Linked DNA regions of Homo sapiens: region 2 is linked to region 1. The links come from fine-mapping of genetic effects on gene expression. A gene starts in region 1. The other region holds a variant in brackets. All regions are shown on one strand. Distances are from middle to middle.

The links. PIP is the estimated chance that this variant, and not a neighbour inherited with it, causes the effect. A credible set is the group of variants that fine-mapping cannot tell apart.
Region 2: its variant is the best candidate, but not a certain one, in a credible set for the expression of PDLIM2 in monocytes after LPS (Fairfax 2014, PIP 0.83).

What each region holds. Positions count from the first base shown.
Region 1 is chr8:22,578,332-22,582,706 of GRCh38, forward strand. It overlaps PDLIM2 (PDZ and LIM domain 2), which reads left to right and starts at 2,144. Exons shown (of 9, transcript NM_001368120.1): 1 at 2,144-2,366; 2 at 3,048-3,199. The coding sequence starts at 2,274. RefSeq lists enhancers at 1-604, 3,378-4,070 and silencers at 461-860, 931-1,000, 1,101-1,190, 1,201-1,360, 2,091-2,180 and 1 more.
Region 2 is chr8:22,638,389-22,642,763 of GRCh38, forward strand. All of the region lies in intron 2 of BIN3 (bridging integrator 3), which reads right to left. It overlaps BIN3-IT1 (BIN3 intronic transcript 1), which reads right to left and starts at 3,821. Exons shown (of 1, transcript NR_027715.1): 1 at 1,983-3,821. The variant C/T (reference allele first, on the strand shown) is at 1,844.

The DNA of each region.
Region 1 (4,375 bases):
GGCTTCTCCTCCCCGAGCTGGCACCGGGGTCCCCTCCTTGGCTGCCCTCTCCTCATCCTTATAGCCTGGGCTTCAGGTGCTTGAAAGAGGACAAGGGAGGGGGCAGGAAGCGGGGTGAAGACCTGCAGAGAGGATGAGGTGAGGGCCCACGGGAACGGGAAGGTACCAGCCCAGGGGTGGGGGTGCCCAGTGAACCCCTAGCCAGGAGGCTCTCTCCATCTCCTAGGGCCCCTGCGGGTCCCCCTTTGCGGGCATTCCAGGCAGAGAAGTTCTGCGCTGCCGAGAAGCCAGCGTTCAGGAAGGGAGTTGGCGGGCAGGAGGGTGGCCTTGGTTTGGGATTTGTGGGTGTCAAGGCCGCATCTGCGCCAGCCTCCCAGCCTGGAGTGGGTGGAGGAGCCAGGCGGACCGCAGACACACCCAGGCAGCCCACCCTGCCCAGGACCTGGGGATGCGGGGCGGGAGAGCGCGGCCGGCGTGGGAGAGCTTTATGGGGCTGCCCCCTCGATCGTCTGCGAAGTGGGGCGCGGGGCAGTCCCTGGACCGGCTCTGCTGTGCTCCGGGCAGTCGGGGGCTTGCGGGCGCTCCGGGGAGGATGCGGGCACCACCGGCTGGACGGTCGCAGCCTGCAGGGGGCCCTGGGGACAGCCTGCCTCATCCCCCCGGCGGGCTCGGGCCAGGTGGCAGCGCCTGGGCTCGCCGCGCGGAGGCGGCGGCTTCTCGGGCTAGGGGCGGCGGCAGGGGCGGCCCCGGGATCACATGGGCGGAGGCAGGTCCGGGAGCCCCGGGCGGGCTCTCCCCAGAGTCGGGTAGACGGCAGCGGGAGCGGTGGCGTCTCCCCGCCTTCCCTCCCTCCCGGGCCTGGGCGCCCAGCCGGACAGGTGAGCGGCAGCCAGGTGAGCGCGCCCACCTGCGCCTCTCCGCGCGGCCCGCCCTCCCCGGCGCCGGGCTCCTCTCCGCGCCCCTGTCGGCGCGGAACCCTGGCCTCGTCCGCGGCCCAGCTCCCTGGAGCCTCGCATCAGCGGGGGCGCCCCCGCGAGCTGCGCTCTCCCCGGCCGGAGCGCTCCTCCTCCAGCCCCCAGCCCGCAGGGTACTTTGCCCTCGGAGCGAAGGAGGCTCCAGAACTGGTAGAGCCGGGCCATCGGGCTGGGCACCTCCCCGCGGCGCCCGCAGCGCGGAGTCCACTGACCGGCTCAAAGGTCTGGGAATCTCGGGGCGGCCGCGAGCCGGCCTCGGGGACTGGGGTGGGGGCGGTGCTGGGAACAGAGGCTAGGCCTGGGCCCAAGGGGAAGGCAGCCGGGGATGGAGCGGACAGACCGCTGGTGCTCTTGATAGATTCTCGCAGCACTTGCGTCCCCAGGGCAGCCCCAGGATGGGTGCTGGGCAGGGTGGTGCCCAGCCTGGCACCGCGGCTTCCTGCCTGGATTGGCTCCTGGCTCCAGAGCTAGAGGCTCAGGAAATCCCACAGGGGTCTGTCTGCAAGGGCACTTCCTTGCCCAGCGGAGGGGCTGTGGATGGGAGGCCTGTCACCCCGGCTGTCTGTCGGGCAGCATCAGGAATCTGGGGGTGGGTGTGTCCAGCTTGACAGATGAACCCTGGCCTCCTTGCCCTGGCAGCCGGCCCCTGGGGGAGGTGGGGAGCCCGGTCTTGCCCGTGTGATCCACTTTGCCAAGAACGAGGTGGGCAGCTAGGAGGCCCATGTGAAGACTCGGCCTCACCCCACCAGTCCTTCACCTGGCCAGTGACTTACACAGTCTGTACTGGTGCCAGCCTGTTCCTTGACCCGTCACTCCTGCTTCCTGAGCCCTGCTCTCCCTAGGCCACTCACCAGCCCTCCCCCAGAGTGGAGAGGAAGTACCGTGTGCTGTGGGTTTTGGGGACAGGAAGCAAGCGCTAGTGGGACTGAGCCCTGATGGTGGAGGAGGGGAGACTGAGGGGGTGCTGGCATCCCCTCCACTTGCCAGCCCCTGCCCCCCATGCTCCAGCAAGCCCCCTGCCTGGCAGCCTGGGCAGCCCCCTCCTGGGAGTCGCTCCCTGGGCTGAAGACTAAGGAAGGGAGAACCCAGAAGCATGGCTTCCCAGGGTGGGGGGAAGTGAAACCGGGCTGAGGGAGGGAGTTAGCCACTTCCTCTACCCACCCCAAAGCCCCTGAGTAGCTGCTCCGGGAGCTGTGGTGCCCTCTCCTTCTCCCTTTGGCTCCTCTCCTGCTGCCTTACAGTGCCCCCAGAGCCGGCTAGGGGCATGGACTTCACCTCCTGGTCCTCTCTTCCTCAGGTATGGCGTTGACGGTGGATGTGGCCGGGCCAGCGCCCTGGGGCTTCCGTATCACAGGGGGCAGGGATTTCCACACGCCCATCATGGTGACTAAGGTAAGGATGGTGGCTCAAAGAGATGAGAAGGTCCTGCCAGAAGCGAGGTCGGCCCTGTTCACCCCACTCTGCACAGATGGCTTGCTTTTTCTGTTCTGGAGCTAGGGATCTGCTGCTGCCTGGCGTGCTGGCTGTAAGGGAGCCGTGGCCCTTTGCCACGGGGATGTGGTGGCCACTTCAGGAACAGACCTTGGGAGTGAAAGGGAGCTGGGACCAGGACAGGGCCGGCTCTTGCCTCCCCAGTTGCTATCCCCACACTTGCAGGCAGCCATTTGGGGTGATTACTAGAACAAGAGCCCCGGAGTTCTTGGCAGTCTCCTCTTGACCTGGGCCCAGGCTGGGAACATTCACAGGAGGGCTGTGCAGGCAGCCACCTGCAAGGTGCGATTTGCACGGGCAAGGCTCTCTATCCAAAAGTATTTCCAAGCACAGTTCCTGAAATTCTGCCACTGCACATTCTTTGGGAGGCCCATTAGAATGCCAGTGTGGGGTGGGGGCTGCCACCTGCGCTCCTGGAGGGGATGGCTGATCAGCTGGGTGTCATGAGCAGGCAGAGGGACATGCAGGAGGGTGCAGGCCGGCCTGGGTCAAGCCAGCCTCTGTGTTTCTTGGGTAGCAGAGTGGGAAGTCCCTTCTCCAGCTGGGCCACGGTCTGAGCATGCCAGCTCCTCATCCCTACAGGTGGCCGAGCGGGGCAAAGCCAAGGACGCTGACCTCCGGCCTGGAGACATAATCGTGGCCATCAACGGGGAAAGCGCGGAGGGCATGCTGCATGCCGAGGCCCAGAGCAAGATCCGCCAGAGCCCCTCGCCCCTGCGGCTGCAGCTGGACCGGTAGGGCCTCCCGCTCTGCAGAGCCTGTGGCATTCCCCCTCCTCCACCACCCCACGTATTGAGCAGCCCTTGCTCCTGCCCATGGGCTAGAGCTCAGCCCTAAAGCGGCCTTCTTGGGCCCTCTCCACACCTTGGTGAGAAGGTCCTGGGCTCTGCTTCCTGCAGCAGGGTGGGCTGAGGGGTGTTCCCATGCCTGGTTGGGTAAAGGTGGGCGCCAGGCTGGGCGTGCAGTCACAGGCTGGGCAGGGCGAGCTGGCACCAGCCACCTTGAAGCCCGGGTTTGACTGGTTCCCAAGAGTGTGCAGGGCACAGGGCGTGGGCATGAAGTGGGTTGAAGAGGGGAACCTTCTGGGAAAGGTATGCCCGAGGCTGCATCCCCAGGACTCCTGCTTCCAACAGGGCATGGCCTTTGTTTAGTTCCCAGCTGGAAGTGAGGACTTGGGGGGCTCATTCCTCATAGAGGCTGTCTGTTCCTCCCCATCACTGAAGGCAGATGCCCGATCCTGGGTTACTCCTAGGGTTTTGAGCCTATAAGCCAAGGTGGGGCCAGGGTGGGGCCTGGAGGCCAAGCTATAGGGGGAACAGGTGGCTCCCTGGGGTGGGGCATTGCAGTGAGTCACAGATCGGGAATGCCAGGAGATCCCCGAGCCAGGAGAGCCCTCTGCACGGGCCTAGAACCTGAGTCAGACACCTCTTGCATCCTGGCCACCCCCACATTGTCCTGCTCTCTTCAGCCCTACCAAGCCCCTCCTTCTCCAACTGCCCTGCCCTGTGGTGTGGCAGAAGCCGGCTCCCTTCATGTCATTCAGGTCCCTGGGTGTTTGCAGGAGCGGGACCCCAAGAAGGAGGGTAGAGAGCACCTCATGGCATCTGGGAATGGGGCAGAAAGCTACAGGAGGCTGAGGGTCTGGCAGCGGAAGGGCAGGAGCCTCGGACTGTCTCTTCCTCTGGGGTTCTCTGGAGGGACCAGGGCTCGGGGGAGGTAGGCCTGGGCTGTAAGTCAGGCCTCTGGTTCTGCACCAGGCAAGCCCAGACTCCAGTCTCTTAATTTTTTTTTTTTTTTTTTTTTTGAGACAGAGTCTCGCTCTGTTGCCAGGCTGGAGTGCAGTAGCGTGATCTCGGCTCACTGCCACCTCTGCCTCCCGGGTTCAAGAGAGTCTCCTGACTCAGCCTCCT
Region 2 (4,375 bases), 60 kb after region 1:
GAATCCAGAGTCCTGGTTCAGGTCTTTTTGTTTCAAATTTAAACAACATTCATTCCTACGAACATGTATGAGCACCTATTAAGTGCGATGCATTCTGCCAGGTTCTGGGGATACCCTGGTGATTCAAACAGACATGGGCCCTGGTGGTGGAGATAAACAACTGCCAGATACAAATTTACTTGCTGACTATGATGGGCCTTTTGGACAGCAGGAATGAGGCCAGAGAGAGTTGAACACAGAGTCTGCTTAGCTCTGGCTCTCTGGGCATGACAACAGACTCACTGCATGGAGATAGCTTACCTTCCTCATTTCAACTGTAAAATCCAGAAGCAGGAAAAAAATGATCTTTTCCTTACTTTATGATCCTAGCATCTAGAACCTTCCACAAAACTGTGAAGTAAAACCCACCATTGGTGCCCCCGCCTCCCATCCTACAATCTTTCTTCCTCTTTTCAACAGACTCTTTCTCCATCCAGGAACCCACTATTTTTATCATTACTTACCTTAGGATCCAGCAAAAGCTACTCGTAAGAAAAAAATTCAAAAATCACTCCCACTAAAGCACAAATGCTTGATGAGCATTTAAAGTGTTGCCTGTCCCAGGGGATTTACAAGTTTGCAGGAACCAAAGTCTTAGCTAAAGGAACGGAAAGACTCTGGTGTAACTGCAGGTGGGAAATTTGCTTTGGTGTGAAGGAGCCTCGCCAGGGCCCTTGAAAGTCTGTACTTTGGTGTCAGCCTGGTTTTCTCCAGCAGGGCTGGAAGAATGCAGTTTAGAGGCATGAGCAGAGACAGGTAAGATATGAACTCTGATACTAGCTGTGGAGACTTGATAGTACTAAGCATTTTTTTTTTTTTTTTGAGACAGGGTTTTGCTCTGTTGCCCAGGCTGGAATGCGATGGTGGCATCATGGCTCACTGCAGCCTTGACCTTCTAGGCTCAAGCAATACTTCTGTCTCAGCCTCCTGCATAGCTGGGACTATAGGCATATGCCATTATGCCTGGCTAATTTTTTAAATTTTAGTGGAGACGGGATTTTGCTATGTTGCCTAGGCTTGTCTTGAGCTCCTGGCCTCAAGTGATCCTCTTGCATTGGCCTCCCAAAGTGCTGGGATTACAGGTTTAAGCCACCTCACCCAGCCAACTTTAGGTGGCTTACGAGGAAATAGCTGATATCATCTACCCCAGTGGTTCCTTTTGAGGATTAAGAGGCAGTGCGTGTAGAGCAGATTGCAAGGTGCCTGGCCCATGGCAGTCCTCACTAAATGTTAGTTTCTGTGTTTTTCTCCTGCTCACTGGGGTGCTGGGAAGACCAGAGCAATTTGGGGCTGCAGGCTGGGCTATAAACCTGGGCTATAAGCTGCCCCAAGCACACAGGAAACTAGCAGCCAGGGAAACCCTGATGTTGGTTAAGGGTGGAGTCCCATGCTTGGGTGTTGTGATAATGCCCTAGCTCCCTTTACTAGACACACTTTTTTTTTTTTCTTTTGAGGCGGAGTTTCGCTCTTGTCACCCAGGCTACAGGGCAATGGCGTGATCTCGGCTCACCGCAACCTCCGCCTCCCGGGTTCAAGCGATTCTCCTGCCTCAGCCTCCCGAGTAGCTGGGATTACAGGCATGTGCCACCGCGCCTGGCTAATTTTCGTGTTTTTAGTAGAGACAGGGTTTCTCCATGTTGGTCAGGCTGGCCTCGAACTCCTGACCTCAGGTGATCCCCCCCGCCTCGGCCTCCCAAAGTGTTGGGATTATAGGCGTGAGCCACTGTGCCCAGCCTGCTGGACACATCCTTCTTCTTCTTTTTTTTTTGAGACAGAGTCTCACTCTGTCGCTCAGACTGGAGCG[C/T]GGTGGCACAATCTCTGCTCACTGCAACCTCTGCCTCCCAGGCTCAAGCAATTCTCATGCCTCAGCCTCCCACGTACAGCTGGGACTACAGGAGTGAGCCACCACACCCGGCTAATTTTTGAATTTTTTTTTTTTTTTTGGTAGAGATGGGGTCACCATGTTGCCTGGGCTGGTCTTGAACTCCTGGCCTCAAGTGATCTGCCTGCCTTGGCCTCCCAAAGTGCTGGGATTACAGGCATGAGCCACCGCGCACGGCCCACATCTTTCCTCTAACCTTGCAGGATATGACAGCTGAGCAGCATCTTTACTTATTAAAAGTATTTATTTCCAGAAAGAGAAAATTAAAACTAAGCACTACTTGGCCCAAACCAAACCCCTCTAGAGATCCAGAACACACAGGGGGCGCTCTTTGGGAGGGGTGCTGAGTGTTAGCTGAACCCCGGGGCCCTAGCCTTTGGCTCCCTTCCTCCCTTTTGCAATCCCCCAAGTGTGCCGATGTGTGTGGGATGTCAGACAACACCTGGTCTCCCTGGCTGGGGACTGCTTGGACTTGTACCGGGAGGGACTTCAGGTTTTCAGCTAGGTTGATCATCCTGGAAGCTGAGGAACTTGAGGTCTCACAATGAAGCTGAGGAGAAGGTCAGGGGTGGGAGCGCGTTTTCTACTTGGTGCCGCTCAAGGCCATCTGACAGCCTGAGAGGAGTTTGGACACATTTCACCTCCCCTGCTTCCAGCGGCCGGGGTGGGTTGCTTCTCTAGCTCACTGGTCCGAGAGTTCTCTCCTCCACTGGGGAAAGATGCACGGGGACACTGCCAGAATTCTAGCCTCTCAGATAATGGCTAAGGGACTAAAGGGACACACTGGAGCCTCATTCCGAGGAAAAGAGCCAGACAGAAAAGATCTGAACATCTTTGAATGCTTGATGCCTTTGCCAAAAAGGCAATTGGACCCCAGTCAACAATGCAAGTATAAACACATGTGCACGGACCATCAGGGGATCAGGGCAAGCTGGGCCAGGCTGGCGAGGTTAGCTCAGGGAGAACCAAGCCCCAGACGACTACCCGTGGCCACCCCCTGCATTCATTCTCCAAGGCCCACGGTGGGAGGAAAGGGTTTTGCTGTTCCCTGCTCTTTTGGCAGTGCACAGGTCAGGCCCTGGCACAGAGTGGGAACTCAGTATGAAGTGAATGAACAGGCTGAGTTCCCACCCAAACTTATGCTCATGGTGAAGTGAAAAAGGAAACTGGCAGGCAGGGCTGGGGCACTGATCCCAGGGCTGAGGTGCATCTGATCGGAGTCTGAGAAGCCCAGAATCCTCAGCATTCTGGGAAGCCCCTCCTTCAAGGGATGCTCTGCGTGGAAAGTGGGCTCCCTGTAGGTATGTTCTAGCAGGATTAAGCAGGATTAACGAGGCTAAGGGCCCCGCCACCTGGCAGATGAAAATCCTTCTCCAGTGGAGAGGCTGCATGTGGCCAGACTCTCTTTGCCCTAACTTTGCAGAGCACCCACCTGGCTAGGAACCTTGGAGCGCATGTTCCTTGTGTGCAAGACTCACAGTAACCCTTGTTTCAGGGGGACACGAAGAGCAAAGCTTCGAAGAGCTCTTCCATCCTCCCAGGTTATGGAGGAAGGTGTGGCGGCTTCTTCCTACGCTACGATGCTCCCGCCACTTTATGGGACCTGGGGAGTGGGAGGGGACTGGGTGGAAGGTTAGGATCGGGATCGGGGGAGCTTTTGTTCCTCCATCTCAGTTCTAATGGTCAGCCCCAGCAGGAACAAGCCATTCTAGCCAAAGCCTTGACAATAATGGAATTTGTGTTAATAACCTGGGCACAGGAGAGCAGTGAGGGTAGGGACACAATGCTTTCTTTGTGCCTGACAGTTGGGTGCCTTGAGCCAAAAACCTCCTGAAACTCCCTGAAGATAACGTGAGCATTTCTTCCCATGACAGGGGCTCCATGACTTCCAATAACCCAGGCAGCCACAGCTGCTCCCCTCCCTGAAAGTGCCTGGGCAAGAACAACAGAGTGCGTCACTGCTGTTCAAGGGCAGCTGCCAGAGATGCTGAGACAACTGCACAGCCCAGGCCTGTTTTGGGGGCCGGGAGGGGGTGGTGGGTGGGGAATGAGACTGAAGAGGCAGGGTCTTACTACTTCTACTTCAGTGCCTCTGGGGAGTGGAGGGGTATAGGCCAGGGAAGCAAATAACTACTCCGAGCTGTAGCTCAGCTGTGATTCCTTGTGAGAGATCAAAGGCCCAGCCGACTTTTGTTGCGTTGGGAAATCTAGCTGCCTGGGACAGGCTGAGTCCCTGATGGTTCATAAAGAAGGTCAAATCAACCAGCTTCCTGTGATGTAGTTAACTGGGGACTTATTTTGTGCCAGACACTGTGTTAGGTGCCTTCAGTGTATTATCTTGTGTGAGCCTCAAAGTAACATCTGTGACACAGGTACTGTCATCATCCTGATTTTATAAACGAGAAAATGAAGGCTCCAGAGGTTAAGGAACTTGCCCAAGGTCAGAGACAGCAT